Homo sapiens: one gene and its partners. The protein of the gene in region 1 purifies or fractionates together with the protein of each later gene. This does not show direct contact. Each region holds a gene or a part of one and is shown in the gene's direction. Other genes may lie near its edges. The genes, in order: PPA1, OLFM4 and MAPK13.

The links.
Region 2: the proteins of PPA1 (region 1) and OLFM4 purify together in Homo sapiens (co-immunoprecipitation; one large-scale study listed by IntAct). This does not show direct contact.
Region 3: the proteins of PPA1 (region 1) and MAPK13 purify together in Homo sapiens (co-immunoprecipitation; one large-scale study listed by IntAct). This does not show direct contact.

The regions. Positions count from the first base shown.
Region 1 is NC_000010.11:70,216,304-70,219,956, reverse strand, and holds part of PPA1 (inorganic pyrophosphatase), read left to right. Parts: intron 1-1,139; coding exon 1,140-1,193; intron 1,194-2,025; coding exon 2,026-2,145; intron 2,146-3,653.
Region 2 is NC_000013.11:53,035,246-53,038,898, forward strand, and holds part of OLFM4 (olfactomedin-4 precursor), read left to right. Parts: intron 1-3,653. UniProt on the Homo sapiens protein: May promote proliferation of pancreatic cancer cells by favoring the transition from the S to G2/M phase. In myeloid leukemic cell lines, inhibits cell growth and induces cell differentiation and apoptosis.
Region 3 is NC_000006.12:36,137,013-36,140,665, forward strand, and holds part of MAPK13 (mitogen-activated protein kinase 13), read left to right. Parts: intron 1-1,352; coding exon 1,353-1,432; intron 1,433-1,689; coding exon 1,690-1,768; intron 1,769-1,866; coding exon 1,867-2,043; intron 2,044-2,281; coding exon 2,282-2,361; 3' UTR 2,362-3,653. UniProt on the Homo sapiens protein: Serine/threonine kinase which acts as an essential component of the MAP kinase signal transduction pathway.

The DNA.
Region 1 (3,653 bases):
AGTAATTGCAGATTTAGCTTCATCTGTGCCCTTTGTAGAGGCTAAAAACTGAAAAACTGCAGTTAAAGTTCTATTCCGTGAAAAAAAATAGTATTCTGAATAATTAAAGCTCAAGTTTAATTAAATAACCTATGGCATATTTAACTCCAGTGTGCAAAATGGGTTGGCAAAGTATGGTTTGTTTTTTCATTGTGTTTTTAAACTGCACATCTGGGAATTTACTCCCTGAATATATCATCTATTTTATAGTAGTCAGTTTAAGGCTATAAGCCAATTACAGTAGAACTATCATTGATTAAAATATTTTTAAAGCATATTCTCTTATCTTCAAGGTCAAAGTCCTTTTCAGGGGGGCTTTATTTCTAAAAACAGCCGAATTGGGAGAATAATGTGGATAATGAAGCTGATGAGTTTTGTTTGATGCTAAAACTAAAGTATGACCAAGTAATTAGGCTGATGTGGGGTTCGTCTTATAAACTAAAGTATGATCAAGTAATTAGTCTGACTTGGGGTTTGTCTTATAAACTGTCTCTGAAATAGAAGCTCCAAAAACATTTTGAGTAATTGCAGTGTCTCTGAAGGAAATAACACTGGCCTTTGGAGAGTGTTTTGAAGATGGTCTTCTTCAGAGATACAGGTTCTGTTACGTTTATTTAAGAACTGTTTCCTTCCTAGGAACATTCTTTCCACTGTCAGCTTTTATTCTGAAACACTTAAAGCATACAGAAAAGTTAAAAGATTTATATAGTAAGTTGGCTGGGCAAGATGGCTCACACCTGTAATCCTAGCACTTTGGGAGGTGGAGGCAGGAGGATCACTTGAGGCCAGGAGTTTGAGACCAGCCTGGGCAACACAGTAAGACCTTGCCTCTATAAAAAATTTAGAAGTAAATAAAAATTAAGAAGAACTATACCGTAAGCAATCATATACTGACCACCTTGATTCTATAATGAATATTTTCCTATAATTGCATTATTTCTTCATCCATCATTCTCTTTTTTTGATGCATTTTGTTGAAAATCCAATTGACTTCAAAGATCTGATACAATGAACAGTTTGACTTTGGAAGAAATAGTGCATGCTCCCTCAGAGAACAAATTGGCTCCTGTGACCATCTCACTTTCTCTTTGTTTTTTCAGGATGTGTTTCACATGGTAGTTGAAGTACCACGCTGGTCTAATGCAAAAATGGAGGTAATATTTCACCTTACATTTGAGTCAGACTTAGGATATTGGTTTTGATCTAGTCACACTGACTTGATCAAGGATGAACCATCTGAACGTCAAGGTTTTTCTCTGTCTGGTCCCAGTCTATTTTCTAGTTGTATCTCCCATTGCCTACTAGTCTTCCCTTTGGGCTCCAGCTAAACTCAACTGTTTACAAATATGCCCCAAACTTTTCTTCCCAACATCTTTGCTTCCAATGTTCCCAAAGCCTAGAATTACTTTTTCTCCTCTTACTCTCTGTAAGCCCTTCACTGACCCCTCCTTAGTCACCCCAGCCACAGATACTCTCATTGGAATTTCAGTTGCATGGTGTTAGTTTCTTTCTGATGATACCTACCATCATTGCCTTTTTGTTATGGATATTTATAACATATTTTATATCACAAACTCTTAACAGTAATCACTTTTTTTGTGTAATAAATACCCAAGTATTTGAATAATTTTAAATTCTGTGAAGGAAAACTAAAATTGGATAATATTTATTTTGCCCTTTTAATAAAAATTGTGGTATTTTTATTACTCAAACATTAGAATTTATTCCAGCTAATTTTAGTCTTTGCTTTCTAGAATTAGTAAATGTTCTTTTTCCCTTCTTGATAGTTCCTTTATACCTCACATAACCTTTCACTTAATGGCCGATTATGGAAACACCTTAGTTCAATTATAAAAGTGTTAGGGATAAAATATATCATTAAAGTGGAATTAGGGAACATAGGTACCATAATTCATTTCCTCAGATCCTTATTTGAATAGTATTTCACATCCAAATATGCAAAGATTTGAAATTTTCTTATTTCAGATTGCTACAAAGGACCCTTTAAACCCTATTAAACAAGATGTGAAAAAAGGAAAACTTCGCTATGTTGCGAATTTGTTCCCGTATAAAGGATATATCTGGAACTATGGTGCCATCCCTCAGGTATGTCTTCATGCAACTGCTGACAATGTACTTTTTAGCTTACTAAATATTAATTTACTGCTATTAGTAAAAAAGGTTTGAATACCTGTGGAGAGTTTTTTCTATGGTAGATTTTGAAAACATAAGAAGGGATAATTAACTCAGAATGCTTCCTTAAATAACTTATTTTCAAGATAAACTAAATATTTACAATGTTTAAATTCAGATTTGAACGTTTATTCTTTCCTGAAATATTTCTTCTTTTTTGGACTGGTTATAAGCTATATAAATTCTCTACAGACTGAGTTGCAAGTCTGTTCAGTCAAGAAAGAGTGTATGGTAGTAGTCAAAAGCACTGATTTTTGGCACCAGACAGACCAGAGTTCAAATCCCAAGATGGCCAATTCCTAGCTTACCTAACTTGCCTCCCTTTCTTTCTCCTTGAGACGTCCATATCGCCTCCCTGAGCTATTCACAGTATGTAGGTGGTATGGTTATTTCAAAAAATAAAGCACTTAATACCTGCACACAACAAGCTGTCATAGCTGCTGACTTTATGTTTAGAGTTTTGATTCCCTCTTCTTCAGGTCAAGCTCTTTGTGGTAAAGTAATGAGAGGATCATGTTTTCTTAAGTAGTCAACCTTTTTTTTTTTTAATTAAAAAAATTTTTTTTTGAGATGGAGTCTTGCTTTGTCACCCGGGCTGGAGTGCAGTGGCGTGATCTCGGCTCACTGCAAAAGCTCCGTCTCCCAGGTTCACGCCATTCTCCTGCCTCAGCCTCCCAAGTAGCTGGGACTACAGGTGTCCACCACCTAATTTTTTGCAGTTTAGTGGAGACGGGGTTCACTGTGTTAGCCAGATGGTCTCGATCTCCTGACCTGTGATCCGCCTGCCTTGGCCTCCCAAAGTGCTGGGATTACAGGTGTGAGCCACCATGTCTGGCCTAATAGTCAACCTTTTGAGAAGGGTTGTTTACCAATTTATTCCCAGCACAATGTCAGTATGTAGTAGGTTCTTATTTGATATTTGAAGAATCACTAGGATCTTATCTATAATGAGTAAATGACATCTATTTAATTCTATTTTGGCTAGGCCAGTGCTGTGGCACTTAAAATTTAATGCTGAGACACTAACTAAATATTCAGTTTAATTTTTTTGCTGTTGATAAATGGTTTGTTTTTATTAACAATGAAGTCTGTTAAATGGAACGTACTATGAAACAACCCATAAGATAGTAGAACATAGGTCTGACCCATCTAGCTTGTTAGGTAAGCACAAAGTCATTTGTTTGTCTTAATTACAGTGTTTCACCTTATACTTTAATTGAAATTTTTTTTTTTTTTTTGAGACGGAGTCTTGCACTGTCGCCCGGGCTGGAGTGCGGTGGCGCAGTCTTGGCTCACTGCATCTTCTGCCTCTCAGGTTCGAGTGATTCTCTTGTCTCAGCCTCTTGTGTAGCTGGGATTACAGGCGCCTACCACCACGCCCAGCTAATTTTTTGTATTTTTATTAGAGACAGGGTTTCACT
Region 2 (3,653 bases), on another chromosome or scaffold:
GTTGTAGTCTCTTTTATTTTTTTCTATTTTCTCCAAGTGAAATCCAAGGTTGTAGTCTCTTTATTTTTAATCTTATTTTTTTTTGGTGTATAGTAGGTGTATGTATTAATGGGGTACATGAGATACCCTGAGACAGGCATGCAATGCGTAATAATCACATCATGGAAAATGGAGTGTCCATCCCCTCAAGCATTTATCTTTTGTGTTACAAACCATCCAATTAGACTCTTTTACTTATTTTAAAATGTACAATGAAATTATTATGGACTATAGTCACCCTGTTGTGCTGTTGAATACTAGGTCTTATTTATTCTTTCTAACTACTTTTATTTTTTACCCTTTAACTATCCCCACTTCCATCCTCACCCTCCATCTCTTTCTTGATGGTTATCTTCTATTGTCTCAGCAGGAACATTACATTTGATGTGTCCAATATTAGACAAAAATTGAAGGCTTCCCTGGGAATTTGAATCAAGACTAATAGGTTTCTCAGCCTTGGTAAAAACACTGACTTGAACTCTGATTACTGTTTTTTTCTTTAGCCAGAGGAAGTTATCTTAAAGGGTTTGCCTTTCTCTGGGCTGGCTGGAGCAATGTGACTTGGTGTTCTAGTTTTGACTCCTTCCACCTTTTCAGCCCAAGTTAAAAATCAATTAGAAAAGTTCCTATTTTCTGCACAGGTGAAGTCCAAGCTAGTCTATAATCACATTATGCATTATTTAATACAACTCCATTAATTTACAAGGAGCTCTGGCTTTACTGCAAGATTCAGAATAAGTTTTCCTAAGAAATTTGAGCTTTGCCACCTCAACATCCAACATAGTTATCCTTTAAAACAAAAATTATGATGAGGCTGAGACCCTACTTTCAGCCTGAATTGGTAGATAAATATTCTAAGTTTAAATGAGTGTCCAGGAAAATGTGTTTGACTACTCTAGAAACCTAGCTGCTTAAGAAATATAATGTCCTTGAATTAATCAGTGGAAAAGGCACAGCATTAAATTATAAATTCTAACCATTAATATTCATAGCCTTATTCCAGCATAATCAAGTACAGATAAGAAGTTATGCATAAAAACATAACAAGTAGAGGAAAATCCTAGGTAAAGATCTTTTCAGTTAGAGTCATTTGCTTTGAAATAGTGGAAACTACTGATTTACATGTTGTCTTTGCTGGCAGCAGTGTGAAAGGCAGTTTGAAACCTTATGTGCTCCAGGGAGAGTATGTGGCTTGCCAGGTTTGTGAATATGGGACATTTAATTCCAATACTGTACGGGGGGCTGGTAACATCTGCTTTGCTAATGACAGATAGGGAAGAAGTGCAGAATAGGTGGGAAAGTTTTAGTTCTGAATGTGTCGGTGGCTGCTCTGATCCCAAAAAAACTGTGATTGTGGCCTAAGAAAAAAGTTTATCTGCTAGCTAGGATTTATATAATCGATTTAGTGTGACAGGTGATAATAACAACAATAATAGTAGCAGTTTGTTTGTGCTTTTTCAAATGCTTCCAGTTCTATTCTCTCCTCTCAAGTAACCCTTTAAGGCAGATAGGCCAGGTGTTGTCTCTCCCATTTTAGAGACAGTAAAACTGCAGTTCATAAAGGTAAGGAGACTTGCCCAAGGTCATTCCTCTCTTGGCTGGTTAAGCCAGGTCAGAATTCGAGTCTTCAAAATCATCTCAACTCTCTTTCCTCTTGGCCATGCTGTTAGCATCCTCCAAGGTAGGCCCAGGAAGAGATGCAGTAGTAATGCCTTCAAATCCAAAGTTATCCCTTTAGCTGAGGGCTTTCGAATTTCCAAGTGAGTTATTACAGCTGTCCCTAGGTTGCCTTGAAAATTGTCATTTATCCGGGGGCCTGGGAGAATGCCCGTTTAGGACAGGCCAGTAGAAAAGGTTTTTGACTGCCTTACATTGATTCATTGTCTGTCAGTACACAGAGAAGACAGGGAGCTGCCTCTGCATAAGATGCTGAAAGCATTTTATACTTTTCTGTTGTTTACGGTATGTCCTTTTGTGACTATACTTAGGAAAGGGATGGCACAAAAGGCAGCTCAGGATTTTCTCTTTCTCTGGAGGCTTATGGTCTTTGGCATGAGTTATTTAATATGACACATTTGCTAGTAGATCCTCATGCACGGGAAGGTTGAGGCAGCCTAGGAGACATTAAGGCAACCCATAAAGAAATAACATTGATTGAGCCGTATTTGTATAGTGAAATATAATAAATTAAAAGGTCAGATTGGAAAATGCTGAAATTACTGTTTCTCTATTAATTTCTATAATTCATAGGGCCTCCATTAACTAGGCACTTAACGTACATTATCTCTAGTCTTTATGATAATCTTGTAAGCTCAGTATCATTACCCCCAGTTTACAGGAAACTAAGGGTTAAAGAAATTAAGTGATTTGCCCACTAAGTACTGAAGTTAGATTTGAGTCTAGTTGGGTCTAGCTCCAAAGTACTTTATATGTCTTTACAATCACTCCAGGCTCAATGAACCCTGTTACGTTTACTTTGAAACATATATTGAAAATAGTAGTATGTTGCAAAGTAAACGTACTTATTTCAAATAGTCTGGCCATAGTTATAATCACAGGTTTTGAGAGACTGGCAGAAACATGAACCAGATTAATTCTTTAGCTTGCTAGCACTACACCCTTATTTATTACAAGACCACATTAATTATAAGGAACAATAACAGGCACCCTCAAATCAACGCTCACACAAATTTTATTCCTCATCAATGATATAGTATGTGCATAACAAGCAAAATAAAATGGAAGCTGTGAATGTTAGGCTGGTGGCTTAAAGGCTCAACTAAAACATAGATGAGCCATCTAGTGCTCAGACTTGTCATGATGAGGAGCTTCGAGATAAAGATGTTGACACAGGACGTGTCTCCTCAAGGCTAGACCCATATTCTTGATAGAATGTTTAGCAGCGTCCCTGGTCTTTAGATGCCAATAGCACTCGCCCACCCCCCAGTTATGAGAACCAGGACAAAATCACCACCACTACCGCCCTCCCTCCATTTAGAACCACTTTTCTAGATCAAAATACAGCCATAGGTCAGCTAAAGACAGGGACATGTTCTGATAAATGCATCGTTAGGTGATTTTAACATTGGTGAACGTCATTGTATACTTACACAAACCTAGAGGGTGTAGCCAACTACACACTCAGGCTATATGATATAGCCTATTGCCAGGCTACAAACCTGTACAGCCTGTGACTGTACTGAATAATGTAGGCAATTATAATACAATGGTAAGTTTTTGTGTGTGCATATATATCTAAACATAGAAAAGGTACAGTAAAAATATGATATTTATAATCTCATGGGACCACTGTCATATATGCAGTCTGTCATAGACAAAAATGTTATGCAGCAAATGACTGTATTTTCCAGAAGAAGAAAAAAATGCAGAAAGTGCCCCAAGTGCCAGATGTGGGACTGGAGGCTCCCAGGCAGGCTGGGCTGCCTCTCCCAAGACTGCACCTCCCAGGAGGAGCTGACATGTGGTCAGCATTGTCCACGCATTCCCAAAGCTACAGATTCATATATGTGAAAAGTTCATATGAATGATTTACTTAAATTAGTAAAGTTCACACTCTGAAGTCTTTCTGGCCCATCCCCAAGCTCTTTTGTGTC
Region 3 (3,653 bases), on another chromosome or scaffold:
TTAAATAACTGTCTTTTTTTTCTTAATGTGAGAGTGATACATACTCCCTGTAGAATAATTTGTAAATGCAGATAAGGCTGGACGCAGTGGTTCATGCCTGTAATCCCAGCACTTTGGGAGGCTGAGGTGGAAGGATCCTTTGAGCCCAGGAGTTTGAGACCAGATGTGGCAACATAGGGAGACCCCATCTCTAAAAAAGTTTTTTAAATTAGCCAGACATGGGCCTGGCGCAGTGGCTCATGTCTGTAATCCCAGCACTCTGGGAGGCTGAGGCGGGCAGATCATGAGGTCAGGAGATCGAGACCATCCTGGCTAACAAGGGGAAACCCCGTATCTACTAAAAATACAAAAAATTAGCCAGGCGTGGTGGCAGGCGCCTGTAGTCCCAGCTACTCAGGAGGCTGAGGCAGGAGAATGGCGTGAACCCAGGAGGTGGAGCTTGCAGTGAGCTGAGATCGCGCCACTGCACTCCAGCCTGGGTGACAGAGCAAGACTCTGTCTCAAAAAAAAGAAAAAGAAAAATCCCAGCTACTTGAGAGGCTGAGGTGGGAGGGTTGAGCCTGGGAGGTTGAGGCTGCAGTGAGCTATGATTGTGCCACTGTACTCCAGCCTGGGTGACAGAGGGAGACCCTAACTCAAAAAAAAAAAAAAAAAAAACAAAATGTTGGGTGGGCATGGTGGCTCACACCTATAATCCCAGCACTTTGGGAGGCCATGGCAGGCGGATCACCTGAGATTAGGAGTTCGAGACCAGCCTGGCCAACGTGGTCAAACCCCATCTCTACCAAAAAATACAAAAATTAGCCGGGTGTGGTTCACGCCTGTAATCCCAGCTACTCGGGAGGCTGAGGCAGGAAAATCGCTTGAACCCAGGAGGTGGAGGTTGCAGTGAGCCAAGACTGTGCCACTGCACTCCAGCCTGAGTGACAGAGTGAGACCCTGTCTCAAAAAAAAAAAAAAAAAAAAAATGTAGATAAGCAAAATGATGAAAAATTCTACCACTACGTGGAAAATACATTTTGGCACGGCACACATTAACTGAGTACCTGTGTGTGCAGGGCAGGCCTTTGGTGAGAAGACGAGGAAACAGAAAAGAGTCACTGGGATGAAGGCTGAGAAGTCCACATCCATTTGTTGGGTAGGGACCCCCCTCAGCCTGGCACGTTGGAAAGCTCTCCAGAGCCCTGAGCCCTGAAGAATAAGCCTCCTCCTGAGAGCAGGAGGTGGTTAGGCAGGGCTGGAGCCTGGATGATCAGTTGCCATGGTGCCCGGGTGAAGTGATGGTGGGGTCGCAGGAAGGGCAGTCTCAGACCCACCAGGAGAGCAAGGCTAAGCCTTAACCTGCCACCAAGACCTGGACCAGCTGACCCAGATCCTGAAAGTGACCGGGGTGCCTGGCACGGAGTTTGTGCAGAAGCTGAACGACAAAGCGGTGGGTGGTAAATGGGACCTAGGCTGGCCTGGGCTGTGTGCTTGCCTGACGTGGGCCCAGTGGGCTGCAGGCCTTTGTGGAAGAAGGCTCACCAGCACCTTCCCACAGCATCCTCCTACCCTGGCAGGCACTCTTGTCTTAATCTCACCGTGGACCCTGACCTGAACTTTCAGCCCTGCTCTGAGGCTTTTCTGAAATCCCTGCTCTACACGCTGAGGCCAGAGCCCTAAGGGGTTTGATGCTTTTCTGTCTTCCAGGCCAAATCCTACATCCAGTCCCTGCCACAGACCCCCAGGAAGGATTTCACTCAGCTGTTCCCACGGGCCAGCCCCCAGGGTGAGTCTCAGAGCCCGCTCCCCAGGGGCCTCTCAGCGTATCCCAGAGGGCGGGCTCTCCCAGCCCCTGGTGTGAGGCTCTTGGCTCTGCCCCTGCAGCTGCGGACCTGCTGGAGAAGATGCTGGAGCTAGACGTGGACAAGCGCCTGACGGCCGCGCAGGCCCTCACCCATCCCTTCTTTGAACCCTTCCGGGACCCTGAGGAAGAGACGGAGGCCCAGCAGCCGTTTGATGATTCCTTAGAACACGAGAAACTCACAGTGGATGAATGGAAGCGTAAGAGCTGGGGCCTCGGGCTTCCTCGCCTCCGCCTGCAGCCTCTCTTCCTTGCTTCCTCCATCTTTGTGCCTGGCCTCTGCCAGCCCTACCTGCCACCTCCTTCTTGGTGGGCATTGTCTCCTGGGTGCTTCTTTCTCCTTGAGCTGACTTCGCTCTCCATGCTGTCTCTGAAGGGGGGTGGACTTTCTCGCCACAGCACCTCTTTACGCACCTTAAACCATGCTGCCTTTCTCAGAGCACATCTACAAGGAGATTGTGAACTTCAGCCCCATTGCCCGGAAGGACTCACGGCGCCGGAGTGGCATGAAGCTGTAGGGACTCATCTTGCATGGCACCGCCGGCCAGACACTGCCCAAGGACCAGTATTTGTCACTACCAAACTCAGCCCTTCTTGGAATACAGCCTTTCAAGCAGAGGACAGAAGGGTCCTTCTCCTTATGTGGGAAATGGGCCTAGTAGATGCAGAATTCAAAGATGTCGGTTGGGAGAAACTAGCTCTGATCCTAACAGGCCACGTTAAACTGCCCATCTGGAGAATCGCCTGCAGGTGGGGCCCTTTCCTTCCCGCCAGAGTGGGGCTGAGTGGGCGCTGAGCCAGGCCGGGGGCCTATGGCAGTGATGCTGTGTTGGTTTCCTAGGGATGCTCTAACGAATTACCACAAACCTGGTGGATTGAAACAGCAGAACTTGATTCCCTTACAGTTCTGGAGGCTGGAAATCTGGGATGGAGGTGTTGGCAGGGCTGTGGTCCCTTTGAAGGCTCTGGGGAAGAATCCTTCCTTGGCTCTTTTTAGCTTGTGGCGGCAGTGGGCAGTCCGTGGCATTCCCCAGCTTATTGCTGCATCACTCCAGTCTCTGTCTCTTCTGTTCTCTCCTCTTTTAACAACAGTCATTGGATTTAGGGCCCACCCTAATCCTGTGTGATCTTATCTTGATCCTTATTAATTAAACCTGCAAATACTCTAGTTCCAAATAAAGTCACATTCTCAGGTTCCAGGTGGACATGAATTCCAGGGGGAAATGATTCAACTCACTACAGACAGCTGGGAGGGAGGGGCCCCTTCCTGGGCCCCGTGCTGAGGCCTTGTGCTCTGTGAAGGAACCCAATGTGTTTGGCTGCTAAATTAAGGGAGTTGCAGAGAGAGCTGCAGCTGGTGCGATTGCATTCAGGTTATTTTGGGTGAGTGATAAGCAATCAAGATATGAAACAACAGCAGGCTCGGAGACTGCGAGCTGCACAGGCAGAAATGGGCTCTTGCCTGGCTTGATGGCAAACCGTTCTGCTCCCTTTGGGAGATGGCACAGCTCTCCAGAGCTTTGACCTGACAGTGGCTAGAACCTCTCTGTTTTTATCTGAGAAACTTTGGCAGAACAAATTTCCATGTGCACAAGCTGTCGGGCACAGTGGGTCTCAAATTTCCTTGTGCACCAGGGGACTTGTTAAAATGCAGATTCCTGGGCCCCACCCCAGGGCTTGTGACTCAGCAGGTCTGCAGTTGAGACCTTAGAATGTGCATTTGAATGAGGACCTCTCGCCCTGACCCAAGCCTAGTGATTCTGATGGATATCAGACCATAGTTCGAGACATTTAGTGGATTTCAGTCATA